Linked DNA regions of Homo sapiens: region 2 is linked to region 1. The links come from fine-mapping of genetic effects on gene expression. A gene starts in region 1. The other region holds a variant in brackets. All regions are shown on one strand. Distances are from middle to middle. Region 1 holds the start of GOLGA7 (golgin A7). Region 2 holds the start of LOC124901938 (a long non-coding RNA gene).

What was found.
Region 2: its variant is fine-mapped to the expression of GOLGA7 in whole blood (INTERVAL, PIP 0.98).

What each region holds. Positions count from the first base shown.
Region 1 is chr8:41,481,027-41,497,753 of GRCh38, forward strand. It overlaps GOLGA7 (golgin A7), which reads left to right and starts at 9,556. Exons shown (of 5, transcript NM_001002296.2): 1 at 9,556-9,939; 2 at 16,483-16,635. The coding sequence starts at 9,829. RefSeq lists a silencer at 9,187-9,446 and enhancers at 9,497-9,626, 9,917-10,026, 10,077-10,186.
Region 2 is chr8:41,441,372-41,458,098 of GRCh38, forward strand. It overlaps LOC124901938 (a long non-coding RNA gene), which reads right to left and starts at 1,569. Exons shown (of 2, transcript XR_007060897.1): 1 at 1,226-1,569. The variant G/A (reference allele first, on the strand shown) is at 7,860.

The DNA.
Region 1 (16,727 bases):
TCAATAAACTAGGTACTGATGGGACGTATCTCAAAATACTAAGAGCTATTTATGACAAGCCCACAGCCAATATCATACTGAATGGGCAAAAACTGGAAGCATTCCCTTTGAAAACTGGCACAAGACAGGGATGCGCTCTCTCACCACTCCTATTCAACGTAGTGTTGGAAGTTCTGACCAGGGAAATCAGGCAGGAGAAAGAAATAAAGGATATTCAATTAGGAAAAGAGGAAGTCAAATTGTCCCTGTTTGCAGATGACATGATTGTATATCTAGAAAACCCCATTGTCTCAGCCCAAAATCTCCTTAAGCTGATAAGCAACTTCAGCAAAGTCTCAGGATACAAAATCAATGTGCAAAAATCACAAGCATTCCTATACACCAATAACAGACAAACAGAGAGCCAAATCATGAGTGAACTCCCATTCACAATTGCTTCAAAGAGAATTAAGTACCTAGGAATCCAACTTACAAGAGATGTGAAGGACCTCTTCAAGGAGAACTACAAACCACTGCTCAACAAAATAAAAGAGGACACAAATGGAAGAACAGGCCATGCTCATGGATAGGAAGAATCAATATTGTGAAAATGACCATACTGCTGAAGGTAATTTATGGATTCAATGCCATCCCCATCAAGCTACCAATGACTTTCTTCACAGAATTGGAAAAAACTACTTTAAAGTTCATATGGAATCAAAAAAAAGAGCCCACATTGCCAAGACAATCCTAAGCAAAAATAACAAAGCTGGAGGCATCACACTACCTGACTTCAAACTATACTACAAGGCTACAAAACAGCCTTGTAGTATAGTTTGGTTACAAGGTAACCAAAACAGCATGGTACTGGTACCAAAACAGAGATATAGACCAATGGAACAGAACAGAGCCCTCAGAAATAATACCACACATCTACAACCATCTGATCTTTGACAAAACTGACAAAAACAAGAAATGGGGAAAGGATTCCCTATTTAATAAATGGTGCTGGGAAAATTGGCTAGCAATATGTAGAAAGCTGAAACTGGATCCCTTCCTTACACCTTATACAAAAATTAATTCAAGATGGATTAAAGACTTAAATGTTAGACCTAAAACCATAAAAACCCTAGAAGAAAACCTAGACAATACCATTCGGGACATAGGCATGGGCAAGGACTTCATGACTAACACACCAAAAGCAATGGCAACAAAAGCCAAAATCGACAAATGGTATCTAAGTAAACTAAAGAGCTTCTGCACAGCAAAAGAAACTACCATCAGAGTGAACAGGCAACCTACAGAATGGGAGAAAATTTTTGCAATCTACCCATCTGACAAAGGGCTAATATCCAGAATCTACAAAGAACTTAAACAAATTTACAAGAAAAAATCAAACAGCCCCATCCAAAAGTGGGCAAAGGATACGAACAGACACTTCTCAAAAGAAGACATTTATGCAGCCAACAGACACATGAAAAAATGCTCATCATCACTGGCCATCAGAGAAATGCAAATCAAAACCACAATGAGATACCATCTCACATCATTTAGAATGGCAATCATTAAAAAGTCAGGAAACAACAGGTGCTGGAAAGGATGTGGAGAAACAGGAACACTTTTACACTGTTGGTGGGACTGTAAACTAGTTCAATCATCGTGGAAGACATTGTGGCGATTCCTCAAGGATCTAGAACTAGAAATACCATTTGACCCAGCCATCCCATTACTGGGTATATACCCAAAGGATTATAAATCATGCTGCTATAAAGACACATGCATACGTATGTTTATTGTGGCACTATTCACAATAGCAAAGACTTGGAACCAACCCAAATGTCCAGCAATGATAGATTGGATTAAGCAAATGTGGCATATATACACCATGGAATACTATGCAGCCCTAAAAAAGAATGAGTTCAGGTCCTTTGTAGGGACATAGATGAAGCTGGAAACCATCATTCTCAGCAAACTATCACAAGGACATAAAACCAAACACCGCATGTTCTCACTCATAGGTGGGAATTGTACAATGAGAACACTTAGACACAGGGTGGGGAACATCACACACTGGGGCCTGTTATGGAGTGGGGGGAGTGGGGAGGGATAGCATTAGGAGATATACCTAATGTAAACGACGAGTTAATGGGTGCAGCACACCAACATGGCACATGTATACATATGTAACAAACCTGCACATTGTGCACATGTACCCTAGAACTTAAAGTATAATAATAAAAAAGTCAAAAAATAAGTAAATAAATAAATTACCTCTTACCTCTCTCACACAAAGACTTTATCATATTGTCTTAAGATGGAATGTTAAATATATTCTTTTAAACTGGAGAGGAAATGAAAACAAGCCATATAGAAAACAAACTAATCAAATTGTTATAATTTGATTATAAACCAGCCTTGTATAGAAAATGTTATGATCCTCCCAAATTTATTTGTTTTCTGTCGGTATAAGCAAGACCTTAACTTTTAACTTCAGAGCACTCGCTCCATTTCTCTGGAGTCTGGTTTTCCCGGATGGCTATTCCCAACTTTTCACTTGAATACGCTCTTTAAAACTGGATTCTGATCCTTTCCATTATTTCAGGTTGACATATCAAAGAATGAAAAACATATTACAAACGATATGGATACCACTTGGTTCAGCACCACTCAGCCATAAAAGGTGTGATGGGTACAGAGGTTGAGTTGAACACGGAGTGCTTTCTGCAAAGCAGGATTCAATAACATTTGTGAATGGATAGTGTGGAAAGCAGAGAGGCTTCTAAAACATACTAAGCAGGGTTCTGAGTCTCCAGCCACAAATGTGCCTTTCTCAAAACAACATCCTCTACACTCCCATCTTCTCTTTTGTCTTTTTTGGGATCCTTTACTCCAGTCATTCCTCATCTTGATTCTTTTCTAGCCTCAAGTTGTCCAACTCATTCCCTCTATAAATGTATCTCCAGTAACAAATGTCAAAAGGACAGGAATTTTGCTCTCTCAAAAGGAAAGATTAAAGTATGCATCCCTTTTTCAACAATGCTATCCCACAGTGGGTGGAGGGGATTTTACAGACAGCCTCATTTCCCATTTTTCCAATGCCCTAGAATGCATATTACTATAAAGCAACCGTAGAAATTAATCCTTTGTGTTAGTGAGTATTTGTCCTTTATGGGAAAATTAGACATAACATGCAGTGCACATGGAAGAGCCCACAGGGGGAATTGTGAAGTTTTCATCCCTAGAGGTCATAAAGATAGTTGAAATAGTGCCAGATTCTAAGAAGGACACCTGGGCCAGATGTTTACCAGGCCCCTCCAACTCAAGGGAGGTACAATTCTAAGGAGGGAGGTCTTTTTTTTCTTTTCTTTTCTTTTTTTTTTTTTTTTTTTTTTGAGACCGAGTTCCACTCTTGTTGCCCAGGCTGGAGTGTAGTGGCGCGATCTCAGCTCACTGCAACTTCCACCTTCTGGTTTCAAGTGATTCTCCTGCCTCAGCCTCCCGAGTAGCTGGGATTACAGGGGCATGCCACTACCTCGGGCTAATTTTTGTATTTTTAGTAGAGACGAGGTTTCACCATGTTGGCCAGGCTGGTCTCCGACTCCTGACTTCGTGATCTGCTTGCCTCGGCCCCCCAAAGTGCTGGGATTACAGGCGTGAGCCACCGCACCCAGCCTGTTTTTCTTTTTACTTTTGTCAAAACTGCCGTCAAATCAGGTTCCACAGAAGATATGGACAGTTAATCATCTATCCCAGATAATGATGGTGTGTTCCCACTAGATGCCCTCATATTTCTTCCATCCACAACTAGCTATATGATTTTTGAGGCCCAGTGCAAAATTAAAGTGCAGACTCCCATGTTCAGAAAGTATTACGAATTTCAAGATGATGACAGCAGGACATTAAGCCAAGAAGAGAGCTCTTCTCAGTGCAGATCCCTATGCAACTATACAAGTCACACACCCGTGACACCACCCTTGCTTCCAGCTCTGCAATTCTACACTGTGCTGGTGAAAAGAGTCTGAAATCTCCAAACCCTCTTATCCACCAGCCACTTCAGATATGAGAGGTCTTCAATAGGATCCTAAACAATAAAGGCAAAGGACCCTTATTAATGACATCATTCAATCTGCTCTTCTCCCTCACAATGAAATAAACAAAAATGTAAGCAAGAGCAGCTCTTTCATGGAGAGAGCATTCAGTACAACTGTCTGGCATCTGTTCAGCCTGTTTCCTGAAACTGGGACACACGTTGTTTTAGATGGTGAAATTTAAATGGAAGGAACAGATGCTGTCAATTCAGGTATGCCAATAATGTTCTCTCAAAATGCAATAAAGACATACAAGCTTATAAAACGGAAGCTGACTTGAAATTACCAGCAAATGCATGAAAACAAAGAGACAATGATCCTTGGAGTTCTGCCCATTGTACCAGTGCATGGTAGACACTAGAACTGAAAACGAGGAAAATGGATTTGATCTGCCCCCACCCCAGTCATGCCTCAAAGCTTTAGAAGAAAACAACTACTACAAAAAAAACGATGTTAGACGAAACGGGGATGGCTTCGGTGAGCAACGTGAGCATGGCCAAGGAGGACAGTTTAAAATTTCTTTAGTATAAGGACGTCTTTCAATCCAATTGAGATCTTTATGAAGGACCTGGGAGGAAGTGGTTGGACACAAATAGAACAAAGCCCAGGAGAGATCGTAGCTGAAGAGAAGACGCCATCTGCAGCGTGGGAAGCTGTTTGTAAGCAGGGCCGAAAATGATCCAGGATGGGTCAAAAGTTGAACATGAGTTGGTGATACAGAATGGGACCCCGCATTGAAAAGCTAGCTTTGTTCCAATAGAGAAAAAAAAACAGAGTTGAAAATGGAGGGACAAAAGGATTTCACTGATAATATTCAGCACAGGTTAACGCTCTTATCAGAGTATCTAGTTTGAAACACCAGAAGGTTCTGAGAGTCATACAAAAAGACAGAAACTTTGGAATAGAGATCCTACCATCGAAGATAAAGGAAGCTGGTTCATTCACCTTGGAGAAGAAACGATAGAGGGGTGTGTAAAAGGATATAAGATTTTTATCACCATCTCTCTTCTCTATTAAAGATCTCTCATCCCTACTCCCACCTGACCCTCACCCAAGCAGACTTCAGATCCTACTTATTTCAGGTATGAATACTTATCATTCCCTGGACAGAGAGGCTGGAATGCCCAATTATCTCTCCTTCTGTTAAAACCCCTCCCCTTCCCCAAAGTTTTTTAACCTGTTATAATCTCCCTCCTCCCACCCTCCTGGCCACCCATAAGAATGTGAATTTCCACAGGACATAAATAATCCACACTTTTTTTATCCTTTCATCACCAGCCCTTATGAGTGTCGACAAATATTTGTTGAATGAATTCATTTTCAAAGCATTTCATGAGAATCTATTATGGACAGAGGAATAAAATAGATAATATGTAGGCTTCAAAGAAGCTAAACATAGACAAGGGACTCAAAATTCAAAAAGGAAGAATGAATTGTCAATACTGTAGACTAATAGCTTGACTTCAGCTCCTTAAAATATCAGAGGATTGTTGAAAACATAGAAAGGAATAAAATAATAGTGTAGGGCTAGTGAGCTCATAGATTATAGATCATATCTGTATTATATAGTATTATCATTGTTTGGCCAGGGTTACTAGATTAATAGATATAGTAGAGATTATATGAGGTAATGCATATAAACCGCTCAACCTAGTTCCTTAACACTAATAGCCCAATGAATAGTAGCTGCTGCTATCATGATGTTAATGTTAGCAAATCATTTGACTATGTCACTAATGATGTAATAATTTAAAAAAAAAACAGAGTACCATACAGTATTTGTTATGTGCCAAACACATTCTAAGTGTTTTACATACAATATCACATTGACACCCTCTACAAGGTAGATGTACTAGATTTAATAGTGTCCCCCAAAATCCATGTCAGTCGGGAACCCCAGATCCTTATTTGCAAATAGGGTCTTTACAGATGTAATCAGGTTAAGATGGTCAGACAGGATTAGGTGGGCCCTAAAGCCAATGAATAGTGCTCTTTATAAGGAGAGAAATATTTCAAGACACAGAGAAGATACAGGGAAGAAGGCCATGGGAAGATGGAGGCAGAAATTGCAGTTATGCTGTCATAAGCCAAGGAATTCCAAGGATTGCTGGTAACTGCCAGAAGCTATTTGGTTGGTACAAAAGTAATTGCTGTTTTACTTTTAATGGCAAAACTAGAATCTAGACACATGAGTGTGTTTAGGGATGAGGGAAGACGATAACAATACAGCTCATCGTCCTTTGATTCCTCTTTCACCTGGGATCGATCCTCTTCCCAAACATGAAGAGGGTTTTCCTTGGGTTATATTTGCCCTCAAATTTCCTCATTCAAAAATAATCTGTTTGCTGGGTGCAGTGGCTCACGCCTGTAATCCCAGCACTTTGGGAGGCCGAGGCGGGTGGATCACGAGGTCAGGAGTTCAAGACCAGCCTAGACAACACGGTGAAACCCCGTCTCTACGCAAAAAAATACAAAAATTAGCTGGGTGTGGTGGCACGCACCTGTAATTCCAGCTACTCGGGAGGCTGAGGCAGGAGAATGGCTTGAACCCAGGAGGCGGAGGTTGTGGTGAGCCGAGATCGTGCCACTGAACTCCAGCCTGGGCGACAGAGTGAGATCCATCTCAAAAAATAATAATAATAGTCTGTTTTACCACCTAGTCTCAGTGGCCAAGGGCTGCAGGAAAATACTCCAAATATACAATGTATGAAAATTGTTTTCTTCGTTCACTCCATTAGACTGAAATTTTGAGGGTAGAGACTGTTTTACCTGTTTAAGGGTGTTCTCAACCCCTAGTAACAAATATGTAGAAAACCAGCTCCTAGGAGATCTTACTGAGTTAGTAAGGAAGCATCAACTTCGGAGACAAACACTAGTAGACATTTAATTCAAAACAGGATCAGATCATGAAACGGAATAGAAAGTCCAAAACAGGCAGACAGAGGGACAGACAGACAGACACACACACACACACACACACCACTGATTTTCTTTTTCTTTTTTTTTTTTTTTTTTTTTTTGAGACAGAGTCTCGCTCTTTAGCCCAGGCCGGAGTGCAGTGGCACTATCTCCGCTCACTGCAAGCTCCGCCTCCCGAGTTCACCCCATTCTCCTGCCTCAGCCTCTCGAGTAGCTGGGACTTATAGGCGCCCGCCACGGCGCCCGGCTCATTTTTTGTATTTTTAGTAGACACGGGGTTTCACCGTGTTAGCCAGAATGATCTCGATCTCCTGACCTCGTGATCCGCCCGCCTCGGCCTCTCAAAGTGCTGGGATTACAGGCGTGAGCCACCGCGCCCGGCCCCCACTGATTTTCAACAGAGATACAAAGGCAATTCAGTGAAGAAATGAGAGTCTTTTCAACAAATGGTACGTAAACAACTGAATAACAACTGCATAATCATACGGGGGGAGGGAAGAGTTTCACTCTATACCTATGGGAGGCAGAAATGCCCTCCCCAAGAGGTCCACACCCTAATCCCCTCAAACCCCTAACGTGTTAAGAGAGTAAAAAGACAAATCACAGACTGTGAAAAATGCATGCAAATCACATATCTGATAAAGGATTTTTCTCCAGAATGTATAAAGAACTCAAAACTCAAAAACAGCCCGGCCAAGTTCTCACGCAAGTATAAAGGCCTCAGGAAAACATCTTTAAACATACAAAAATCCAAGAATTAAAGTGCCTTAAAAATTTAAAACTGACCTTAAGCCCAGCCAATAAAGATGTAAATCAAAACAAAATAAAACAAAAAACCCCTCAACAACAGGAAAATAAAATACAAACAAAAAAATGGGCAAAAGTTTTAAATAGACACTTCACCAGAGAAGATACATGGATGGCAAATAAGTACAGGAAAATATGTTCAAAATAATTAGTCATGGAAAAATGAAAATTATAGCTGCAGAAGATATTACTACCCAAGTCTTGGCAAAGATGTGGAGCAACTGGAACTCTGGTGGGAATGCAAAATGGTGTCACCACTTTGGAAAACAGTTTGTCAGTCTGCCAAAAAGTTAAACGTGTTTTTACCGTACAATCTAGCCATTCTACTCCTAGGTATGTACCCAAGAGAAATGAAAGCATTAAGGTCTACACACCTATGCAAAGACTTGCAAATGAATGTCCATAGCAGCTTTATTTGTAACATCCCAAAACTGGAAGCAATCCAAATGTCCATCAACAGATGAATGGATAAACAAACTGTGGGATGGCCATACAATGGAATAGCTATCCAGCATCAAAAATAAATGAATTATTGATAACACAACAACAGATGGACTTCAAAATAGTCTATGTGAAAGAAGCCAGGCAAAAAAAGGGGGTACACACTATATGATTCAATTTATATAAAATTCAAGGAAATGAAACTAATGTTGAGTGACAGAAGGTGGATCAGTGCCTGGGAAATGGGGTCTGGGAGAGGCAGGAGGGAGAGATTACACAGGAGCTGGAGGAACCTTTTCAGGGCAATGGAGCTTTACTATCTTGATTGTGACAGTGGTTTATGGGTGTATTCATATGTCCAAAGTTATCAAATCCACTGCTTTAAATGTGTGGTTTATTGTATGCCATTTATATCTCGAAAAAGCTGTTTTTAAAATACAGTAAGAGAATTTTTCATATTTAAAAGGCAGGATATTTAAACTATATTAAATATATAAAAGACAGTGGTACTAACAGGTTGTATTAGCAGGAGACAAGGGTAAGGTGGGGTTTCTTTGGCTGCCTTGCAAAGAAATGCTGAGTCAAGTAAGGGCCAGTGGGCAACGAGGGCGGAACCACTTGTCCCCTTGGTCACCTGAGGGATGTGGATGGGAGCTGGGTGGAAATGGGGGGTGAGAGGAACGCCGCCCCCAAAGAAGAGTCGGGGCAGGGGCGCCCAACGCTGGGGCCCAGGCAGGTTCTTCGTCCTCACTTCCTGACCCTTTCTCAAGAGTCTAGGGACCAAATGGATCCATCCTTGGAGCCTGCTTTCTACTTCTGAACACAATGAGCAGTTTGTGTTTGAGGGTTTGGGGAGGGGGTGTTGTTTTTTCTTTATGTTTTGTTTTTTGTTTTGTGTATGAGTTGGGTGGCATAACCCACACGTAAGCTGCGACGTCCAATCAAGAACGAAAATGACCCCTCACAATCAGTGATCGGGAACCACCTGCCACAATCACTAGGGAAGTGACACAGCCGGGAAACTCCGCCCCTCACACCCCCGCGCGCTCGCGCCGGCCGCAGCCCCACAGCTCGCCCCGGCCGCAGCCCCACAGCTCGCCCCGCCTCTCTCCTTCCGGAAACAATCCCCGCGCGGGCGGAAGGCGGGGTCGGCCCTGGCCCCGCCCACATCATTTCCCTTCCTCGGCCCAGCCCCACAGCGCGCAGCTTCGGCAGGGTGGCTTTACGGCCGGAGGAGAGGGTGGGTCCCAGACCTGAGGTAGGAGGCCGAGCTGAGGGGCGGGGAAGAGGCTTTTTGCGGCAGGACGTAAGTGACGGCGAAGGCGGTGCGACAGCAGCTGGAGGGCAGAGGAGGCGGGTTTGTGTTTCCCGGGCCGAACCGGGTTGTGGGGGGCGCGGGGCCTGGGCCAGGCGGCAGCTAAGGCCCGCGGTGACAGCATGGGTGAAGGGGAGCGGGGCAGAGGAGGCCTTGGGCTGTTTTCGGCGGCGGGTGGGGGCGAGGGGCTGGCGGGTCAGAGTCCCGGGTCCAGGCCGGGGCTCTGACTCGCGGTTGGTGTTCCCCCGACCCCGCAGCGCGGGGTGTCCTGTCCTCGCCATGAGGCCGCAGCAGGCGCCGGTGTCCGGAAAGGTGTTCATTCAGCGAGACTACAGCAGTGGCACACGCTGCCAGTTCCAGACCAAGTTCCCTGCGGAGCTGGAGAACCGGGTACGCAACCTGGCTCCCCACGCCTGCTCTGGCGAGGGAGAGAGACTCACCGGGGACGGGAAGGGTGTGGGCGACAACCGGGCCTTTGAGGGTCCCGCAGTTCTGGGGAGGTCCAGGCACAGAAGGGGCCTTGGCCAAACGTGTAAGAAGAGAGCCACTAAGCAAGACAGGTGTTTGGAGCAGGAAGAATAATATAGGCCGATCGCCGGGGTTGACGACCTTATGGAACTTTGTTGCCCGGTGCCGGGAATCTGGATCCAGCAGTGTTCCCCTGCTGCACTCCCCCAAATCCCCACCCCGGGTTATTGTCGGCAGCGATGAGGAGCCAATTCCTGAGGCTCCAGGTCGTCTCAGTCACCAGGTTGTAAACTATATCCTCCTACCTCTCCGCGCAAGATAAATCATCATCATTCTCGTGACTGGTGTTTGCTGCCTCTGTGCTGGCCGCACTGTTTGGCTGAAAGGGTTTATTAGGTGCATGGCCAGGCGGTGCGTTCAGGCTTTCTTGGAACCTTAAAGACGTCGGGCGTTAGATAGGCCTGGACAGGAAAATGTCTCAGAACAAGGCCTTAAACTTGTCACATTCACTGGGAGCCACCTGTTTTGTCTTGCATATCAAAATGGTCATCAGGATATAGGTCCTTTGGGCAACATTGCAGGCAAAAATGGAAGAATGGGATTTGCTTCCCCTTCAGACCTAGCAAAACTTTAAAAAAAAAAAAAAAATCATTGTATCTTGTTGTAGAGGTAATGGAGTGTGTGCGTGCCTGCCTGTGTTTTTGTGTGCCCACATATGTACATTCAACCAAAGATTCTTTTGGTCTTGACCCATGTTATGTAGATTGTGTTTCCCGTTCAGGGATCAATTTCTGGTTAGCTGGAAGCAGGTTTTGTGGCTCTCTCCTCTGTGACAGGGAGGACGAGGGCCTGAGAGGTGATTAGGCATTCCTTGGGTGTGGGACTGAGAGATGCTGGTCATGGGATAAGTGGGTGTGGATGAGTCTGTGTAGAGAAATGTGTAGCAGTTATTTACAGTCAGTTTGCAGTGAGGTGGGTTGCACTGCCCGATTTCCATGGTTGGGAAATCAACAATGATCCATTATAGTTTCCTTCAGTTTGACATAACCATGGGCAGCTTCATGGCCCAAATATGTTTCTTGAATTGCAAATGGATCAAATATGCCTTTAAAAGATGGTGAGGTGACTTGTTTCTGAAATGCCATTTAAATGCTGCAGTATGTTGTCAACTATGTTATGAGTTAACTGAGCGTGACAATAGGTGGAACTATCTACAGTGGTTTGAAGAGGTAGAAATTCAGCAAGTGGCCAGTTGGGTAGAGCTACTGAATGTTGTTTTAAAATAATTTAACATCACAATTGATGTGTTTTACATGTTAAGATTGACATGGAATCTGGCTGGGCCCGGTGGCTCACGCCTGTAATCCCAGCACTCTGGGAGGCCGTGGCGGGTGCATCACTTGAGGTCGGGAATTCAAGACCAGCTTGGCCAACATGGTGAAACCCCATCTCTACTAAAAATACAAAAATTAGTCAGGCATGGTGGCGGGCACCTGTAATCCCCGCTACTCAGGAGGCTGAAGTAGAAGAATTTCTTGAACCTGGGAGGCGGAGGTTGCAGTGAGCCGAGATCATGCCATTGTACTCCAGCCTGGGCGACAGAGCAAGACTCTTGTCTCAAAAAATAAATCAAATAAAAAGATATACATGGAATCAATCAAATGTTTTATTTTTAAGCCTCTTACGGAAACTATGACATACAATTTATGTACTTCAAAATCAGAATATAAAGTATTCTTTTTTTACCACAATTATTTGGACATTAAAGATTCCTTTGCTTTAAGGTTTTAAAGCAACACTTACACCTCATATATTTGAGCTAAATGTGTATACACAGAATCAGACATTAGCCTTCCACTCTGTGTGTGGCAGAGCCTTTATTTTGTAATCTAAGTGCAAAAGCACAATGTAGTTACTGTGCTCCACTGATTCTTGTCAGGAAATTGATGTTTCTAAATTCTGGAGTCCTTTTACCTCTTTGACTCTGTATAGCCCAGAACTGCTTGTGGTACTGAGTACTATATGGAATGTTACATGGCACTCTTCAATTGTGCCTTTGAATTTCTTTTTTCTTTTTAAATGTTTGGGTTAAAACACTAGCTTATGCTTTAAACCACTAGAAAAGCTTTGATTGTCTGTGTATGTGTGTTGAGATTAAATTTAAATTACAGGTTTAAACTTTCCTTGCTTTGATGAAAAATTGAAAGGTTTCTGTTTCTCTACTACTTACCCTAGAAATTTTACTGATTGCTCTGCTATTGGAGCTGATTTTCCTTTTGTGAGAACATCACACTTGGCAACATAATAGAGAAAGTGACTAATATGCAAGTGTTTTGTATTATTTTAAAGCATTTTTTAAAAATACACACACATTTGTGCCCTTTAATTTGGGAGTAGGATAGGTTCTGTCTGTTAACAAGTTCATTTTCTCTGCTGCCTTTTAGAATGTAATACTTTGATGCTTAAGCGATTTGTTGCCAGAACAATTCCTTAAAGGAAACTTTATTCTCATTAGCCTTAAAATACAGATATCTTAGTTACCCTTGGTCTGGGTAGAAGAATGAGTGAACTGTAATTGAGGCATTTTTTCCCTTTAAAAATATGTCTCCCCATCTGGTTAGTAATTACCTTTGACCTGCCACCCTTGATACGTGATCACTGCATGCTTCACCATGCTTTCTACTGTGTAGTTCACAGTAATTCTGGGAAAATAAGCCTGATTTCTCTTTCCATTCTGATTTTTGATGTTTGTGGGTCCAAATTTTATTTGGCTGTGACTTCTCATATATCTAAATTTTGATAGAGCTCCTGTATCAGTGTCCAGGAACCTAAGGGAGAACACTGGCCACTGTTATTCATAGCCTAAAGGTAGTAAGATACAAATGCCAACATTTGTTCTCTTGAGCCCTTTCTTGTGAAGTTTGTCGTTTGCCTTTATTGATGCCTTCTGTGATTTTTACCCTTTATTTCCCTTTTTTAAAATAACCTTTCAAAAACTTGTTGGCATTTACTTTTCTTTAACCATTTATCCTTTCTTTTTCTTTTTTTATTAACCTTTTTTTGTTTGTTTGTTTAACTGACGTATGATTTACCTCTAACCTATAGGGCATTGTAATCTCGGAATAACGCATAAGAATTAAGTGTTTCTGGCTGGGCATGGTGGTTTGCACCCAAGTAATCCCAGCTGCTCTGGGGGTTGAGGTAGGAGTATCCCTTGGGGCCAGGAGTTCAAGACCAGTCTGGGCAACATAGCGATACTCTGTCACTAAACTTAAAAAATAATAATAATTAGGGTTTCCGGGATAAACAGTAATTCTGATATGAAAGAAATAAGATGTTTCTGGGTTGAATCCCATGGTTTTGAATTGTATTGTAAAGAAATATAAATAATTCAATGACTTATAACATAGGCACATCAAATGTGATTGGAATTATTTAGACTTTTGTAGACTTATCGGTGGACAAACTGAAGGCATTAACGTAGGCATAATTAGGTGAACGTAACAGCTTACCATTTTTGTTTGCTGAGCTCTCCTCAGTCTGTTTTCGTGAATGAGAACTCACAGTTTCCCAGATGACCAGCCTTGACACCACATCTACAAGGGGTAGCTCAGTGAAGAAACACTGCCCCTGCGTTTAAAGGCCGTCTTGACCCACCTAGCCTTTGTCCAAATCTCTAATATTCCTGGAAATTTAAAGTAACTCCTTTTGAAAAATGGGTAGAGCCAACACCACTTTAAAGTTTGCATTAAATTCATGCATGCCACTAGCCCATTGACTCCTCACATTTTCCACACAACGGACAAAACAATGACTACAACTGCTTCTAACTTAAAGAGTTGTCATAGCTTAAGGATGGTCATGAATTGTTTTACACTTTAAAAGATTATGTTCTTGAGGCCAGGTGCAGGTGGCTCTTTGGGAGGCCAGGGGGGTGGATCACATGAGGCTAGGAGCCTGAGACCAGCCTGGCAACATGGCAAAACCTCGTCTCTACTAAAAATACAAAAATTAGTAGGGAATGGTGGTGCACGCCTGTAATCCCAGCTACTCGGGAGGCTGAGACACGAGAATCACTTGATCCTGGGACCAGAGGTTACAGTGAGCCAAGATTGCGCCACTGCACTCCAGCCAGGGTGACAGAGTGAGACTCTGTCTCAAAAAAAAAAAAAAAAAAAAAAAAGATTACATTCTTGGGAATAGTGAATAGTAGGGCTCATACTGTATGTTGAGGGTTTTTTTTCTTTCTTTCTTTTTTTGAGACAGGGTCTCACTCTGTCACCCAGACTGGAGTGCAGTGGTGAGATCTCAGTTCACTGCAACCTCCACTTCCCAGGCTCCAGCAATCCTCCCACCTCAGCCTCCTGAGTAGCTAGGACTATAGGCATGCACCACCACGCCTGGCTAATTTTTGCATTTTTAGTAGAGACAGAGTTTCACCATGTTGCCCAGGCTGGTCTCAAACTCCTGAGCTCAAGTGATCCACCCAGCTCAACTTCCCAAGTGCTGGGATTACAGGAATGAGCCACCACGCCAGCCTGATTTTTTTTTTTCTGAGTCGGTTTCTATTATAAAGAAAGATTTAATAGGTTCACAGAGACAGGAAAGGAGAAAAAAAAAAAGCCAAACAAAAAAGTCTTTTAAATAAGGACTTCATAAAAGAGAGAATTCATACGTAAGTAGTTATTAATTTTAGAAATAAGGGAATCCTTATGCGAGAGAAGGCCTAGAGTGCAGACAGATAAGAATGGCAGTATTGGATGATTGCTCTCCTAATGGGCCTTGAAAGTCCTGGGATGAAGTAGCAAAATTTGAAATCTGTTATACAAAGTACTATTAGAAGACAGTAAAGTAATATTGGAAGAATAAAGTAAAAGCAGATGATTGAGTGAAACAATGGATGACAGTACAGGTTCTTTCTTATGTGAAATATGTGGAACCAGAAGTATTTCAGTTTTTGGGGTTTTTTTAGATTTTGAAATATTTGTTTATACTAATGAGATATCTTGGGAATGGGATCCAAGTCTAAACACGAAATTCATTATGTTTTATATCCACCTTATACATATAACCTGAAGGTAATTTTATACAATATTTTAAATGACTTTATGAGACAAAGTGTGTGTACACTGAACCATCTTATCACCCTTTGTGAGCACGCTTGCATGGGAGAATCTGGCTGTGCATGGAAAAGATACATGGCAGCTGATGGGGGCTGGAAGGGTCTTTTTCTCTTGGGGACACTGAATAAACTATGTGTTGTGCGCCTGCATTTTGACTGTGACCCCTCACATGAGGTCGGGTTTGGAATTTCCCACTTGTGGTATCATGTCAGTGCTCAAAAGTTTCAGATTTTGGAGCCTTTCTGACTTCAGAATTTAAGATCAGGGATGCTCAACCTGTGGTAGTATTAGTGTAAATTTAAGATAATGGTGTCACCAAATAGAAAGAGGTAATAAGAATGACTTAATGTGAAAAATTGTTTATTAGCTTGAGATTTTACCTTAACAAATTTTACCTTATTTAGTAACAAGATAATTGCTTCAAAAGAGATAGGCTGAGTAAACAGAATATAGAACCTACGCCTTTTGATCCTTCTGCTAAAATGCCATTTTTTTTTTTTTTGCCTAGTAAATTCCAGTCTTTAGTTACTCAATTTAAGATTACCTGCCCTTCCCAGATAAAGGGAATTTCTCCTTGCTTTTGTGTCCCCACTAGGCTTTATATTTGCCTATATGATAGTACCCTGTCAGTTTATTGCTTTTTTTTTTTTTTTTTTTTTGAGACGGAGTCTCGCTCTGTCACCCAGGCTGGAGTGCAGTGGCGCAGTCTCGGCTCACTGCAAGCTCCACCTCCCGGGTTCACGCCATTCTCCTGCCTCAGCCTCCCCAGTAGCTGGGGCTATAGGCACCCGCCACCATGCCCGGCTAATTTTTTTTGGTATTTTTAGTAGAGACGGGGTTTCACCATGTTAGCCAGGATGGTCTCCATCTCCTGACCTCGTGATCCGCCCACCTCAGCCTCCCAAAGTGCTGGGATTACAGGCATGAGCCACCGCACCTGGCCAGCTTACTGCATTTTTATGTTTACATTGCCTGTTCTGCTTGCATAATTAAACTCTTAAGGATTGAGACAGTGCTTTATCTTGAGATTTTTCATAGTATCTGATAGTAGGCGCTCAGTAAGTGTGAAACTAAATGAATGGAAAGAGGAATAGAGCCTAAAGTTACTTGAAATTTAGTAGAAAGAATAAAGAAGTACCTTATTGAGCCTTGAAGCTATCCAGTATTTATAAGAGGGATAAAATTAAACAAATTAAGCAGTTTTGGTAACTTAGGCCCAGATTTAGTCACCAAAAAAATTGTCAACTAAGAATGGTGAGAAAACAAGATAAATTAATGATAGCATGCATTAGTTGATTTTTTTTTTCCAAAACTTAATTTTTAAATATTTTCTTCTCTACAGATTGATAGGCAGCAGTTTGAAGAAACAGTTCGAACTCTAAATAACCTTTATGCAGAAGCAGAGAAGCTCGGCGGCCAGTCATATCTCGAAGGTTGTTTGGCTTGTTTAACAGCATATACCATCTTCCTATGCATGGAAACTCATTATGAGAAGGTAATGCTACATTTGTTTTCACAAAAATCTCTTAAAATCATGAAGAAGGCAAGTTTATTACACATTGATGCTTACATGGTGATAGTTGCCGT
Region 2 (16,727 bases), 40 kb before region 1:
CCTGATGAAAGCCTCAGCCCTGGATCCCAGAGTGATCGCCTAGAGCAAATGCTTGAGTGAGATTTCAGCTCTTCTCTTGCCAAGATGTGGCTTTTCAAGGCTGGGCTGCCAATGAAAATGTCAACAATGCTCAGATCAAGAGGAAAATGCTCATTTCACCCTCAGAGGGCATCCAACATTCCAGCAGATCAGTGGTGATCCAAGGTGCCCTTTGTTGATCAGGGCAGAGAATACATTTCCTTTCCCAAGACAGAGCAGTCCAGTGTGGTTAGTAAATGGGCCAGCACCAAAGAGGCTGCATGCAGAGTGGAAGCTGAGGCAGGTGATGCCCTCCTTCCTCCACAGAGAGGCTTAGATCCCTTAGAAGAGGCAACTGGTCTTGGGGACATATTCTGAGTCTCTCCTGAAGCAATGGAAATGGGATCCAGCTTTGGAATCTGATCCCCTCCCTTGCAAATGAAACTTGGTTCCAAGGAGCAACCAACTGAACAAATCCCAAATGCCAGACATTGAAACAATGGCAGAATTAGCTAGAGGAGAGCTAATGTCCCTATGAATCTAGCTAGCCCTAAGCCCAAGCCTCACAAGTCAAAATATAAATGAATTATCTAAAACTAAGAGACCTGATTGCTGAATCTTGATTAAGATGAGCATTCAAGATGAGGATACTGAATGTGTTGAAATAGCCAAGGGAGGGCTGGGCTTGTTTCAACTAAGGTGTCTACGTGCCTTATTAACATTACTAACAAAGGAGAAAAAAAGATGTTAAAAAGTAGCAATGATGCAATAACTGGCTTTGAGTGATTCTAGAAAAGGAGCAGGCATTTGCTTTGAAATGAACTCTCAGAATTAGCTTGTTCTTCCACAGGATCATAGACTCGTCTAGTTTTGTGTTTTCCAGACTGTGCTGTGAGGAGAACAAGCAATTCCTGAGAGATCTCAGGCTCCATCCTCCTACCCTGCCTGAGCTGAAGAAGCTCTTTGTGCCCCTTCTGAATATGATTGGGTTTCTGAGTAAGAAGTTGTTGGGAGAAGTCGTTCTGCTGCTTTGTATCGGATAGGACTCTCAGTTGTGAAAGACAAAGACCCTGATTAACACAAAATTCATTTAGGCAAAAGTAGTGTCACACATAAACTGAAAAGTTAAAAGCTGTGAGCTTCAAGCACAGCCAGATACAGTGGCTTCTTTGATGTCAGTGGGGCTGAGGGAGTCTCTGTTTCCTACCTTGCCTCCTTCTATGTCAGCTTTATTCAGGCAACCTTCCTTCCCATGCGGTGGCAAGATGACCATCCGGCGGGTTCAGGCTTCCAGCCGGTCATCTCAGAAGCCCAGTGGTTGTCCTTCCCGATAGCTCTCTATCAATCAGGATTAGGTTAAGCTGCCAAGTAAAAGAAAACTCAAAGTGACAACAGTTTAAACAAGCTAGAAGTTCATTCTGTCTTACATAAACAAAATCCCAAAGTAAGCAGTCCAGGACTGTGTAGTTCCTCCACAAACATACATACGCATGCATGTATCTTTATGATAGAATGAAGGAGAATAGTGCTACAATGAACATACGCATGCATGTATCTTTATGATAGAATGATTTATATTCCTCTGGGTATATACCCAGTAATGGGATTGTTTGGTCAAATAGTATTTCTGTTTCTAGATCTTTGAGGAATTGTCACAGTGTTTTCCACAATGGTTAATTAATGGTTAAATTAATTAATTTACATTCCCACCATCAGTGTAAAAGTGTTCCTATTTCTCTGCAACTTCACCAGCATCTGTTGTTTCTAGACTTTTTAATAGTTGCCATTCTGACTGGCATGAGATGGTATCTCACTGTGGTTTTGATTTGCATTTCTCTAATGATCAGTGATGTTGAGCTTTTTTTCATATGTTTTTTGGCTGCATGAATGTCTTCCTTTGAGAAGTGTCTGTTCATGTCTTTTATCCACTTCTTAAAGGAAAACCCCCGTCTCTTAAAAAGAAAAAAAAAATCCTTGGTCAAATGTAATCATATGCCCACACCTAGTTGTAAGGGAGGCTAGAAGTGTAATCTTTGTTCCTGGAAGATATAAACCCAGCTAAAAGTCAAGAGTTCTGTTACTAAGGGAGATGGAGAAAATGGATTTTGGAGGGAGACTAATAGCATCTCATCTGCCATGTTAAACTAATAGTTCCAACAAAAGTTTTCTGGGTTTTTTTGTTTGTTTGTTTTTGTTTTTGAGATGGAGTCTCACTCTGTTGCCCAGGCTGGAGTGCAGTGGCGTGATCTCTGCTCACTGCAACCTCCATCTCCTGGGTTCAAGTGATTCTCCTGCCTCAGTCTCCCAAGTAGCTGGGAATACAGGTGTGCGCCACCACACCTGGCTAATTTTTGTATTTTTAGTAGAGATGGGGTTTCACCATGTTGGTCATGCTGGTCTCAAACCCCTGACCTCAGGTGATCCACCTGCCTTGGCCTCCCAAAGTGCTGGGATTACAGGCGTGAGCCACCACACCTGGCCAAAAGTTCCAGAATTTCAGACTTTAATCATATGTCCATTCCTGAACCAATTCTTCTGGCCAGATAGAGGAAATACAAAGATTTATCAGGTCTGATTCTTCTGGCCATGCCTAATCCTAGACAGAAAGGATGCTGGGCAGATAGAAACAGCAGAACACTCTCACTCCAGTGTAATCTCTTAATGTTTTTATTTTTCAGCTGCAGAAACTGAGGTCCCAAAAGGTGAAATGACTTGCAATGGGTACATAGTGATTACTTCTGGGGCACAAGATCAAGACTCCACTTTATTGCTCTCCACTATCAGTCAAATATATTTCATAGAAATGTGAAATGAAAGGTCTGTAATTTACACCATATTTGGCTGAACACAAGGATTTCCAATAAATTACTCCTAATTATTTTAAACCTTTGTGAAAATTACACCTAACTTTTTAAGCTCGTGCACAGTTACATAAATAAAGAGAAAAATAAGATGCCTTGCTTTCTTCCTTTGATGAATCCTAATTAGCTTATACCTGTGTTTTCAACCACCGTGAGCAGAAGTGTCAACATCTTGGAACACTCTCTTCCTCCTTCACCCCTCTATCCCTCCTTTCATGAAGCTGCTTGCCAAGCACTGGTAGACAAAGGTGAGAGAGGGTCCTTTCCCTCAAAGGGCTTACATTCTTAAAGGAAAAACAAACAGGTAAACAGACAACGCCCTGGTAGGAGGCCAGGCACTATGGCTCATGCCTGTAATCCTAGCACTTTGGGAGGCCAAGGCAGGTGGATCACTTGAACCCAGGAGTTCAAGACCAGCCTGGGCAACATGGTGAAATCCCATCACTACAAAAAAAAATTAGCTGGGTGCAGTGGCACACCTGTAATCCCAGCTACTCAGGAGGCTGAGGTGGGAGGACTGCTTGAGCCTGGGGAGGTCAAGGCTGCAGTGAGCCAAGATCACACCACTGCATTCCAGCATGGGTAACAGAATGAGACCCTGTCTCAAAAAATAAATAAAATAAAACAAGGTAAATAGGTTTGCATGCTTAGGACGTCAAGAACAGAGTGGGGGATCTCACTGTCAAAGCTTCACAGGGAGGCAATACTTGAAAAGCCAGCGCAGGCAGGAAAGAGCTTGGGCATAGAGATCAGAATATGCAAACACACATATGCATAGGAGGAAACTACACGGAGTTCAGTATGGCTGGAGCTAGACTGGGAAGGGCATGGAGGAAGATAGGGCAATGAAGAGAACAACATGTCAGATCTGGAAGGTCTTTGTATACCTTGCAAGGCGATAGCTGGACAGTACCATTGCTTACCTAGACCAGTACCATTGCTTACCTAGACCAGTACCATTGCTTACCTAGACCTGAGGAGACAGAATGGCTTCAATTAGTTATCAACCTAAAATTAAAGTTAAAATAAATGCTAAGTGTCAGGGGCAGTGGCTCATGCCTGTAATCCCAGCACTTTGGGAGGCTGAGACAGGAGGATCACTTGAGGTCAGGAGTTCAAGACCAGCCTGGCCAACATGTGAAACTCCGTCTCTACTACAAATACAAAAATTAGCCAGGCATGGTGGCACATGCCTGTAATCCCAGCTACCTGGGTGGCTGAGGCAGAATTGCTAGAACCCATGAGGTGGAGGCTGCAGTGAGCCAAGATTGCACCACTGCACTCCAGCCTGGGCGACAGAGTGAGACTCCATCTCAAAAAATAGTACATAAATAAATAAATGAATAAATAAATGCTAAGTTCCCAGGCAAGTTCCAAAGCAAAGGAATCCTGTCAATTTATTCTGTGATTGTCTTCCCTGAAGTCTGGTTTTGCCAAAAGCACTTGGGGGTGTGGGGGAGAGGGAAGATGGAGGAAGAAAAGTCAAGTTGATCCTCATTATTCACAGATTATATGTTTGCAAATTCTCCTACTCACTAAAATTTCCTTGTACTCCGCAAGTCAACGCTCATATATTGGTGTTCATGTTCATTCAAGGAAACCTGCACAACAGTGAGAAATTCAAGCTGCCCAATGCCCACATTCCCAGGTGTTGAATAAGACAGCATTCTGCCTTCTTGTTTCAGCTCTTACTCTGTAAATAAATGCTCTTTTTGAAGTCATTCTAGTGCCACGTTTTCACATTTTTGTGCATTTTTTTGGTGATTTCACTGTTGCCCCCAAGTGTAGGGCTGAAGTACTTTCTAACACTACTAAATGCAAGAAAACTGTGATTTGCCTTATGGAGAAAATACATGTATTAGATAAGCTTTGATCACGCATGAGTTCCATGTTAATATTCAATGGTCATTAAACAATTACATATTAAATAAGGCAACTTTAAACAGAAACACATATAAAACAAAAGTTACATACTGATTGGTTGATGAAAACGCTGCGACCAGAAGCTCGTAGGAACTTAACCCTGTATTTCTTCCAGGAGCAGTGGTTCAGTGTTCACTAATTCAGTGTCCACTGTGACTTAATAGAGCATAACTACTTCAAATAACAAGAACTATATATCAAGTGCCATTTTACTCTTTGATGTGTTTGATTTTGAAAGAAAAGTTATTCAATAAAATTAATATAAGGAAAGATTGCATGGGTTTTTTAAGTTGTCTTTAAACATGCAGCCTGAATCTGGATTCGAGGTTCATGGAAGGTGCTACATTTTGGGGAAAGTGGAGGAAGGCCTAAAAGGTTCTGTTCCTCTAAAAATATACCTCTCAGAGTTCATGACCAGCCTGGACAACATAACAAGCCCCTGTATCTACAAAAAAGTTTTTTTAAAAATTAGCCAGGCATGGTGGTGCACACCTGTAGTCCTAGCTACTCCCAAGTCTGAGGTGGGAGAATCACTTGAGCCCAGGAGTTCGAGGTTACACTGAGCTATGATTGTACCACTGCACTCTAGCCTGGATGACAGAGTGAGACCTTGTCTCTAAAGGTAAAAAAATAAATAAACAAATATATAAACCTCTCAGTTCCTATCCCACCTATCCTGACTTCTTTCTGTCTACCTTGAGGAAAGGAAAATAAACAAGTTCCCAGAAAAAGCATCAGCAAACTTCTAAATGAATATAACCAACTCCTCTCAGGAGATGGAACAGGCTCAGTGATCACGTGTCTTGGGTTTCCTGGCATGCTCCTGGTTTCACATATTCTGTGCCATTTCTGCTGTGAGCTTACTTGTATCAGACCATGTGTCCTGACTTGGAATCCAAAAATACAGAGATGCAGTCTTTAACCACTTCTATGCACAACAACCTCCAAGTCCCTGGAATGACATGGTGCCTGTCTTACCTCCCAAACCTATGCAGGCCAAATCCTAGGTCCCCCACCCCCATCCCATGCAGGTCAAGTCCCAGCCTCCCCCCATCTCATGCAGGTCAAGCCCCAGTCCTCCCCCAACCCAGACACAAAGAAACACACTGAGTAACTGTCACCTCCCCATTCATAGCTGATGGTGCTCCCAGCTTGTCCCCATAACCCACCCACATGTGCCCACACCACAGGACACCACGGGTCTCCCTCCACTGTGCCAGAGAGGAACACAAAGCAGCAGAGACTGACGCTGAACCCGAGCTCTCACCTGGACCCCCCGACAGCCTCTGCACCAACCTTACTCAGCCTTCCACATCCAGCCTTGTGACAAAAGGCACATGCAGAAACTCTGCCTTGACAACCTTGCCAGTGGGTCATCCCAGTTCAGGTAGAGCTGCCAGGGGTGCCAGACTGAAAGGGCAGACAGCAGGAGTGAAGTGGACAGAGGCAGAAAGGAAGGGGACTGGCACCTGTCGAGCACTTGGCATCGGGCCAGGCGCTGTGTGGCACTTGATGTATCAGATGTCACTTAATCCCTGCCTGAGGATAATCCTCACTGCACACAGAAGGAAACTGAAACTTAAAAGAGTGAATAACTCACCCAGGTCACGGCTATTAAATCCAGAAGAAGAGTCAAACCCCACGTTCACTCGATGCCAATCTCAAGTGATTTCCACCTCATCAGGTCACTTCTGTTTGCTTCCACAGAAAAGTCAGGACCAGGAACTTTGTGAGAATTCAGCAACAGGGATTATGAAAGTGCTTTAAGAATGAAGTTTGCACAAACACAAAAGGTTATTATTAAAAGAAACCCCAAGGGATCGCCCACATTTTCTCAGTGTCCCAGAATCTGGTTGTATCAAATGCTGCTGCCTACAGGGGAAGACTGGGCTTGACTGTGCTTTTGGTGTTCCAGGAATTCAACTTCTGGGTGTAACTCTATTTAGAGGCAGAATGTGTGAGAAGCCCCTGACATCCACACCTGCGCTCGTCATCCTTGCTTAGTACAGGGGCACAGGACCTTCAAACGGAAGCCTTGATCTTACTGGGTCTCCAATTTCATTCTGACCCCTGGGTGCCCAGCCAGCAAGGACCAAGACCTCCTGGTCTTGGTGCCTGGCACCTGGTTCTGGTGCAAGCCCTGGAATCTGTGCTCCTCTCAGTTAGCAAGCCTTTTCCTAACCCTCCCAGAGTGCACACGACAAACTTCAGCCTGGGTTTTCTGCTTTGGGCTCCAGTTCTCCTCACTGATTGAATCTTTTCAATTAAAAATCTCAGAATTTAGCTAAGTATATGAAACCGATGAGTGGAGCCAAGGACCCTCCAAGAGCAGCCTGCCCCCTTGTGAACTGTCTGAAAGATAAATGGAGGAGTCTCTTCTGGAATGAAGAGTAATCGTCAGTGTGGACAGCACCATGCCTCTAAACTAAGACCCCACTCCTCAAGCTTTAGAATGCAGTCATTCGGATTAGGGTTCGGAGCTCCACCATCCACTAGCTGTGTGACCGGGGCAACTTGTTTAATCTTGAGAAATATCATTTTTCTCCTCTGAGAAACTGGAATCATCACCTCTGCCTGACAATACTGTTGGATGGATTATGTGAAATCATGAATATAAAACATGTGGTTCAATGTCCGCACACATAGAAGGTCCTCAATAAATAGAAGTTTAGATAGGTAGGTAGGTAGGTAGGTAGGCAGGTAGGTAGATAGATAAAGAGAGAGATTAGAGATAGGGTCTCACTCTGTCACCCAGGCTGGAGTGCAGTGGCACCATCCATAGCTCACTGCAGCCTTGAACTCCTGGGCTCAAGTGATCCTCCTGCCTCAGCCTCCCCAGTGACTGAAACCACAGGTGAATGCCATGACACCTGGCTAATTTTAAAATTTTCTGTAGAGACATAGTCTTGCTATGCTGCCCAGGCTGGTCTCGAACTCCTGAGTTCAAGCGATCCCCCTATCTCAGCCTCTCTAATTATTGGAATTACAGGCGTGAGCCATTGTGCCCAGCCCAAACAGCAGACATTGATTTAAATGACAGGAGAATGAAGACGAATC[G/A]TATTCTCTTGACCACTGCCTGCATGAAGATGTCTCTGACTCCCCCGATGGGAAAAACCATGGCCCCTCCCTTCTGCCTTCCTCAGCACATTGTCAGGTCCTCATTTGTGTAATTTTCATGTCCTGACTTGTATTTGAGCTATCTAAATAATCACATAATAACAACACTTTCACTTGTTGAACTCCTATTTATATGTGTATACATTACTTCTCATTATCTCCTATTCAACTGAGGAAACAGATCAGAGAAGTCAAGTAACTTGCCTCACACACAAAGCTCCTAAGCGGTAGACCTCAACCTGGAACTCAAGTATTCTGATCCCAAAGCCCATAGTTTTCCCATGAGCTCTGCTGTTTCTTTTCTTTCCTGTTAGAGTGTGAGTTCCTGGACAGGTCCAGTGGCTCATGCCTGTAATCCCAGCACTCTGGGAGGTCAAGGTGGGTAGATCACCTGAGGTCAGGAGTTCAAGACCAGCCTGTCCAAGATGGTGAAACCCCATCTCTACTAAAAATACCAAAATTAGCTGGGTGTGATGGCACACCTGTAATGCCAACTACTCAGGAGGCTGGGGCAGGAGAATCACTTGAACCTAGGAGGCAGAGGCTGTAGTGAGCCAAGATCACGTCACTGCACTCCAGCCTATGCAACAGAGCAAGACTCTGTTTAAAAAAAAAAAAAAAAAAAAAAAAAGAACCTGAGTTCCTTAAGGATAAGGTATGTGTTCCTTGTTTTGTATCTCAAAACCAGTGTAAGCTGGGATTTTTTAATACCTTACTTTCACTGCACTTTTTTGATGCTCTTCCAAGCATTATAAATACATCTATTTATGTAGATTCCAGTTTCTGACCTATATCATTTTCTTGCTCTCTAAAAAACTTCTTTTAACAGTTTTTTTTTTTTTTTTTTGAGACGGAGTCTTGCTTTGTCACCAAGGCTGGAGTGCAGTGGCGCGACATCAGCTCACTGCAACCTCCATCTCCCAGGTTCAGATGGTTCTCCTGCCTCAGTCTCCCAAGTAGCTGGGATTACAGGCGCATGCCACTGTGCCTGGCTAATTTTTGCATTTTTAGTAGAGACGGGGTCATGTTGGCCAGGCTGGTCTCGAACTCCTGACCTCAAGTGATCCGCCTGCCAAGGCCTCCCAAATTGCTGGGATTACAGGCGTGAGCGACCACGCCCGGCCATCTTTTAACATTTTTTCCAAGGTAGAGCCACAGTAAAAAAATTCCCTGGATTTTTTTTTTTTTTTTTTTGGTCTGAGAAAGTTATTATTTCTTTTTTACTCTTGAAGGATAATTTTGCAGGATTCTAGGTGCAGAATTCTAGGTTAGTAGAGTTTTTTCTCTCAACACTTTAAATATTTTATTACACTCTCTTCTTGCTTGCATGGAGGAGAAATCAGATGTAATTCTTATCTTTGTTTCTCTCTAGGTAAAATGTCTTCTCTCTGGCTTTTTCAGGATTTTTTTCTTTATCTTTGATTTTTTGTAGTTTGAATATAATAATGTGCCTAGGTGTAGGGATTTTTTGGATTTATCCTGCTGGTGTTTTCAGAAATTCCTGGATCTGACATTAATATGGAGAAATTATCAGTTATTATTGCTTCAAATACAGTTATGCATTGCTTAACAATAGGGATGCATTCTGAGATATGCACTGTTTGATGATTTCGTCATTGTGTGAATATCATCGAGTGTACTTGTACAAATCTAGATGGAATGTCCTACTACACATCTAGGCTACAGAGCATGGCATATTGCTCCTAGGCTACAAACCTGTACGGCATGTTACATTACTGAATTCTGTAGGCAACTGGAACACAATGGTATTTGTGAATCTAAACATATCTAAACATAGAGGTTGGGCGAGGTGGCTCACGCCTGTAATCCCAGCACTTTGGGAGGCCAATGCAGGCAGATCACTTGAGGTCAGGAGTTTGAGATCAGCCTGGCCAACATGGTGAAAACTCGTCTTTACTAAAAATACAAAAATTAGCTGGGTGTGGTGGCAGGCACCTGTAATTCCAGCTACACGGGAGGCTGATGCAGGAGAATCACATGAACCCAGGAGGTTGCAGTGGAGCCAAGATCATGCCACTAGGCCAAGATCTTGCCTGGGCGACAGAGCAAGACTCCATCTCAAAAAAATAAATAAATAAACAAACATATCCAAACATAGAAAAGGTAATACATTGCACTACAACACTATGACAGCTACCACATCACAAGCAATAGGAGTTTTTTGGCTCCATTAAAATCTTACAGGACCACCATCTTACATGAGGTCTCTCATTGACCAAAATATCAATGTATTGATTCCAGTTTCCGACCTGTATCATTGTCTTGCTCTCTAAAAAACATCTTTTAACATTTTTTTTTTTTTTGAGAGGCTTGCTTTGTCACCCAGGCTGGAGTGCAGTGGCGCGATATCGGCTCACTGCAACCTCCATCTCCCAGGTTCAAACGATTCTCCTGCCTCAGCCTCCCAAGTAGCTGGGATTACAGGCGCCCACCACCACATCCGGCTAATTTTTGCATTTTTAGTAGAAATGGGGTTTCACCATGTTGGCCAGGCTGGTCTCAAACCCCTGACATCTTCTTCTCTTCTACTTTTGGTATCCCATTATACATATGTTATGCTTCTTGTAGTTGTCCCACAGTTCTTGAATACTTTGTTCTATTTCCTTCTCTTTGCTTTTCAATTGAAGAGGTTTATATAAAGATATCCTCAAGCTCAGAGATTCTTTCCTTAGCCGTGTCCAGTCTACTAATGTGCCCACCAAAGGCATTCTTCATTTCTCTTAGAGTGTTTTTTTGTTTTGATTTTAGAGACAGTGTCTTGCTCTGTTGCTAAGGCTGGAGTGGAGTGTCACAATCATAGCTCATTACAGCCTCGACCTCCTGGGTTCAAGCAGTCCTCCCACCTCAGCCTCTCAAGTAGCTAGGACTACAGAAACACACCACCACATCTGGCTTTTTTTTTTTTTTTAACTTTTTGTAGAGACAGGGTCTCACTATATGCTCAGGCTCATCTTGAACACCTAGCCTCAAGCAGTCCTCCTGCCTCGGCCTCCCAAAATGCTGGGATTATAGTGCTTCTGATTTCTAGCATTTCTTATGGTTCTTTCTTAGAATTTCCATTTCTCTGCTTTCATTTCCCATCTTTTGTTGAATGCTATCTACTTTATCCATTAGAGCCTTTATGCATATGAATCATAGCTGTTTTAAATTCCCAGTCTGATAATTCCAACATCCCTGCCATGTCTGAATCCGGTTCTGATGCTTGCTCCATCTCTTCAAATGTGTTTTCTGCCTTTTAATATGCCTTATAATGTTTTGTTTAGTAACATGGGAGTGAGGCGTCCGTGTGTCTTAGGTAACCCCCAGCAGGTTTCCATGAATATCAGACCCTTCACATCCTCTCTACTCTCTATTCCTGCCTACCTGGCCCAGGTCTTCCCGCAGTGATTGGCTCTGAGCTGGCTCTTACCCAGCATAGCAGATGTAATGCTCCCTCTAGCCCATATCCCTGGAGTAGGGTAAGATGGATCTTCTTGCTCAGATGTTTGGGTTAGCAAAGGCACCCCTAAAGGAGATGGATGGCCCCGCCATGGAATGTGTCCAGAGCCCTGGATGTTGTCCAGGTGCCTGGGGAGCTAAGCCATTAGTTCCACTGTCTGACTTCAGTCTCTCCCTGGTGCCGGGAGAGATTGATTGAGCCCATGCCCTCGGGATGGGGGTGGCAGAGTGGGAGTGGAGAGGGAGGAGGAGCTGCAGTAAGTCAGACAGATGGGGTGTCACAGGATTGGCAACTTGCCTTTCCCAAGAGGGAATGTGGTGGGGTCGGGGAGGGAGCCCAAGGAGAAGGAAGCTTCAGCCCTGTTGACCCTGTCTCCAGCAATTACCGGAGGGGCCGTGATCCCTCTGATACCTGCACAGGGAACAGATGCAGTTGTGGCCAGCATGCTAGGTCACTTTCTTCTGCCAGTGCACTATGGGCCCTAAATGGATCCCAGATGCTCTGCTGCAAAAGGGGGCTTTCTTCCAGCATCCCAGCCTATCTTGAGACAAAGAGAATGAAGAATGGGGATGGGGATATGCTGGGGGGATTCCCATTTCTCTGATGCAATCTAGAAAAACAAGCCAAAGTTATCCAAACATTACCCAATGGCAACAACACACATTGGGGACTACTAGGGGGGCGGGGGGTGGGGGCCAGGGCTAAAAAGTTTCCTATTGGGTACCGTGCTTACTACCTGAGTGATGAGATCAGTGGTACCGCAAACCTCAGCATCATGCATATATCCATGTAACAAATCTGCATGTGTATCCCCGAGTATAAAATAAAAGCTGATTTTTTTTAAGTTATCAAAGAAAGTCCAGGAGGCACATGTAGTGCAAAATAATGTTAGTGCACGGGGTCAAAGTACTGGCACTCAGTAAATCAGTGGCTACCTAACTTAGCATTTCCTACAAAGAGCTAGATTAGCAAGTCTCAACCAAGAAAGGGACTTTTCTTTTAATTCTGGAAAGTAGGAGGTAGCTTGAAAACACTATCCTCCCTCCCTCCCATGCCCAATGGCAGAGGATAACCCTGTTCAGTGTTACAGAAGGGGAAACCCTTTACAAATGATTTAGCAACTCTAACCTTAAGGAGCTCAGCCTCATTAGAGAGATCACTTTCCCACCCTAAATCATAACCATGGAAGGTAGAAAAACCCCAGAGATTCAGTCTCCTTGTTTTAGATAAGAAACCTGAAGCCCAGAGAAAGAACGAGAGTTGCTGGAAAGTCCAGCTTTGCTTATGGGAAGGATTACAGGTTTAATATAAAACAGATGAAAACCTAAATCTGAATCTGAACTGGTCCCCTCAACAGAGTGTGTTTGCATGTAAGTGTGCAAGTGCATGCCCATCTGTGTGTCTTGTGTAGCACTGTAGTTCTGAGTCAGTGTACTTTGACACAGTGGTGTGTGGCTCACCTGCAAACCATAGCAAGCAATTAGTGATCAATATGTAAAATGCATTTCTTCGACATACCATTACAAAATATGTGTTGGCTAGAACATGGAGCTGAGAGGGTCCTGTAACATGGCATGGATATAACCTGCAGTTACATGCATGAGGGTCTGAAGTGAATGCACCACAAAAGAGCTTTATCTCATGAGTAATTCAACCAGCACGATGGCGCAGGAAGCAGTTCTGTTCCAACAGCATCATGATACCCAAAGATGGCCAAAAGAATAAGGCAATAAGAGTGAATTTGAAAGTGGGTCACAGGCATGAAAAACCTAAGCCCACTTCCTAATTGATAGAGAAAGTTCAAGATATGGCCGGGTGCGGTGGCTCATGCCTATAATCCCAGTACTTTGGGAGGCCGAGGTAAGCAGATCACTTGAAGGTCAGGAGTTCAAGACCAGCCTGACCAACATGGTGAAACCCCGTATCTAACAGAAATACAAAAAAAAAATTTAGCTGGGTGTGGTCTTGGTGTGGTCTTGGGCGCCTGTAATCCCAGCTACTCAGGAGACTGAGGTGGGAGAATCGCTTGAACCTGGGAGGCAGAGGTTGCAGCGAGCCAAGATTGCACCATTGCACTCCAGCCTGGGCAACAAAGTGAGACTTTGTCTCAAAAAAAAAAAAAAAAAAAGACAGATGGAACCACAAGGCTACATCCCAAAGTGATGAGCTATGGAGCTATGGCCAGGGCAGAGGCTGGAATGGAGGAGACCCCTAGGACAGCCCTTAGCTATGCTGTGGGGCCTCTTTGGACCTCTCATTTTGGCCGTCCTCATCGCCAGTTCTCTAGAGCACAGCAAGCTGCCGTCTGTCCCTGCAGGCTCCCTCTGAGGCTGATCTCCTCCATAATCCAACCCTGCTTGCCCTCGTTGTCAATCGGAAAAAGTTCATGCATGGATTTACACTGTGTATTGGATTACTTGTATTTCAAGTTTGTAATCTAAAGAAATAAATTTATGACCTGGCAAGGTGGCTTTCACCTGTCATTCCAGTGCTATGGGAGGCTGATGTGGGAGGATCCTGGAGGCCAGGAGTTGGACACCAGCCTGGGAAACATAGCAAGACCCCATCTCTACAAAAAATTTTTAAAAATTAGCCAGGCATGGTGGCATACATGGTGGTGTACAGCTGCAGTCCCAGCTATTTGGGAGGCTGAGACAGAAGAATCACTTGAGCCCAGGAATTTGAGGCTGCAGTGAGCTATGATCGTGCCACTGCACTCCAGCCTGGGTGACAGAGTGAGATCATGTCAAGAAAAAGAAGATAGAAAGAGATAAAGATATAAAGAAAGAGAAAGAAAGGGGAGGAGAGAAAAAAAAGACGAAAAGAAAGAAGAAAAGAAAGAAGAAAGAAGGAATTTCTAATACCGACACATAATACTGGAACTTCAGCCCTTAAGTCATCACACAGGAGGTCACTGTCTCTCTCCGTGAGTGCCAGCATATCCTCAGCTCTAGAGCAACTATGATGTCCTGTGTTTTTGAAACTGCTTCCTGCACTCCCTGTATTGTTCGCTTACTTGTGGCCTGCGTTTATGCCCTTAGTGTCTGTTTAAACTGGAGCCATATTCCAAAATCTGCCATTCTCTCTTTTTCTAAAAAATAATAACCTTATTGAGATATAATTCACATAGCATACAATTCACTAATTTGAAGTTTACCATTCCATTGTTTTTAGTAAACTCAGAGTTGTGCAACCATCACCACAATCAAATTTAGAACATTTGCATCACCCCCAAAAGAAACTCCTCATGCATTAGCAGTCATTCCCTCATCCTAGGCAACCACCAATCTACTTTCTGTCTGTCAATGTTCCTATTCCAGACATTTCATACAATGGACTCATACAATATGTGCTCCTCTGTGACTGACTTCTTTCCAGCATGATGTTTTTGTTTTTGTTTTTGTTTGTTTTTGCTTTTGTTTTGAGACAGAGTTTCGCTCTTGTTGCCCAGGCTGGAGTGCAATGGCACGATCTCGGCCCACCACAACCTCCACCTCCCAGATTGAAGTGATTTTCCTGCCTCAGCCTCCCAAGTAGCTGGGATTAGAGTCGTGCACCGCCATGCCTGGCTAATTTTTTATTTTTAGTAGAGACAGGATTTCTCCATGTCAGTCAGGCTGGTCTCAAACTCCTGACCTCAGGTGATCTGCCCACTTCAGCCTCCCAAAGTGCTGAGATTATAGGCGTGAGCCACCGTACCCGGCCTGATGTTTTCTTTTTTTTCTTTTTTTTCTTTTTTTTTCCCTGAGACGGAGTGTCGCTCTGTCGCCCAGGCTGGAGTACAATGGTGCAATCTTGGCTCACTGCAACCTCTGCCTCCCAGACTCAAGCAATTCTCCTGCCTCAGCCTCCTAAGCAGCTGGGATTACAGGCATGTGCCACCACACCCAGCTAATTTTTGTATTTTTAGTAGAGACAGGGTTTCACCATGTTGCCCAGGTGGGTCTCGAACTCCTGACCTCAGGTGATCCAACCGCCTCAGCCTCCCAAAATGCTGGGATTACAGGTGTGAGCCACCACACTCGGCCTGAGCCACCACCCCCAGCCCAGCATGATGTTTTCAAGGTTCATCCACACTGTAGCATGTATCAGTAGTTGATTTATTTTTATTGTTCAGTAATGTTCTGATGTGTGGCTATGACATATTTGATTTATCTTTTCATCAATTGATGTATACCTGGATTGTTTCTAGTTTTGGCCTTTTATGAATAATGCTGCTATGAACATTCTTGTGCAAGTTTTTGTGTGGACATACGTTTTCATTTATCTTGGGTGTATACCTAGAAGCGGAATTGCTGGGTCATGTAACTCTATGTTTAACTTTTTGAGAAACTGCCAGACTATTTTCCAAAGCAGCTGTACCATTTTGCATCCCTGCCAGTTCCAAGTTCTCCACAACCTCACCAATAGTTACTATCTTTTTTACTCTGGCTGTCCTAATGGATGGGAAGTGGTGTCTCACTGTGGTTTTGATTTGCATTTCCCTAATGGCTAATGATCTTGAGCATCTCTTCATGTGCTTATTAGCCATGTGTATCTTCTTTGGAGAAATGTCTATTCAAATCCTTTGAATGTGGCTTTCTTTTTACAGAAGATTTAAAAGGAACCTGAAATATGTTTCTGGCTTGAATACACTTTAAATGGCAAGAAAATTAAGAGATTCTTCCGGAGATGGATAACAAACCCACTTGTTTATTCAGTTCCATTCCGCCAACCCTTGCTGTACTCCCAAAATATAGTGTTTTAGAACCTGTGGAGATAAAAAGGAATAAGTCAAAGATTCTGCATAGACTTTTTACTAATTCAGATGAGCTTCCTCTGAATTAATTCAAGTAGTAAAATTTCTTTCTATTGTTTTAATTTCTTCAAATTCCTTCTGTTTCCCTATGCTCATTTTTTTCATTTCTTCCCCAAATTATAATTTAGGTAGCTGATGCTCATGTAAAAATACGTTTCTTTAGTTACATCTCTAACATGGTCAAGAATATCTAAAACAAACCAAGAGTCGACGTCATAATAGCAAAATACCAGAAAGATTCTCATTTAATTAGAATCAATTCTCTCCCCCAACCCCTTCATCCTTCAGTGTATGCTGGACTTAGTGACTTGCTTCCCAAGAACAGAGCATCAGTTGGGGAGAAAGTAACTTTACAGGGTAGAAACCTGGCAAACACTACCTTGGCCAGATGATCAAGGTTCACATTGCCTGTACTAAGTCATGACAACATGTATCCCATGATGAGATGCGATGGGATGCAAACTCTCATCTGTAGTCTTCCCAAAACCACAGGCTAGTCATGAGAAAATCCAAATTGAGGGGCATTCTACAAAATACTTGACTAACATCT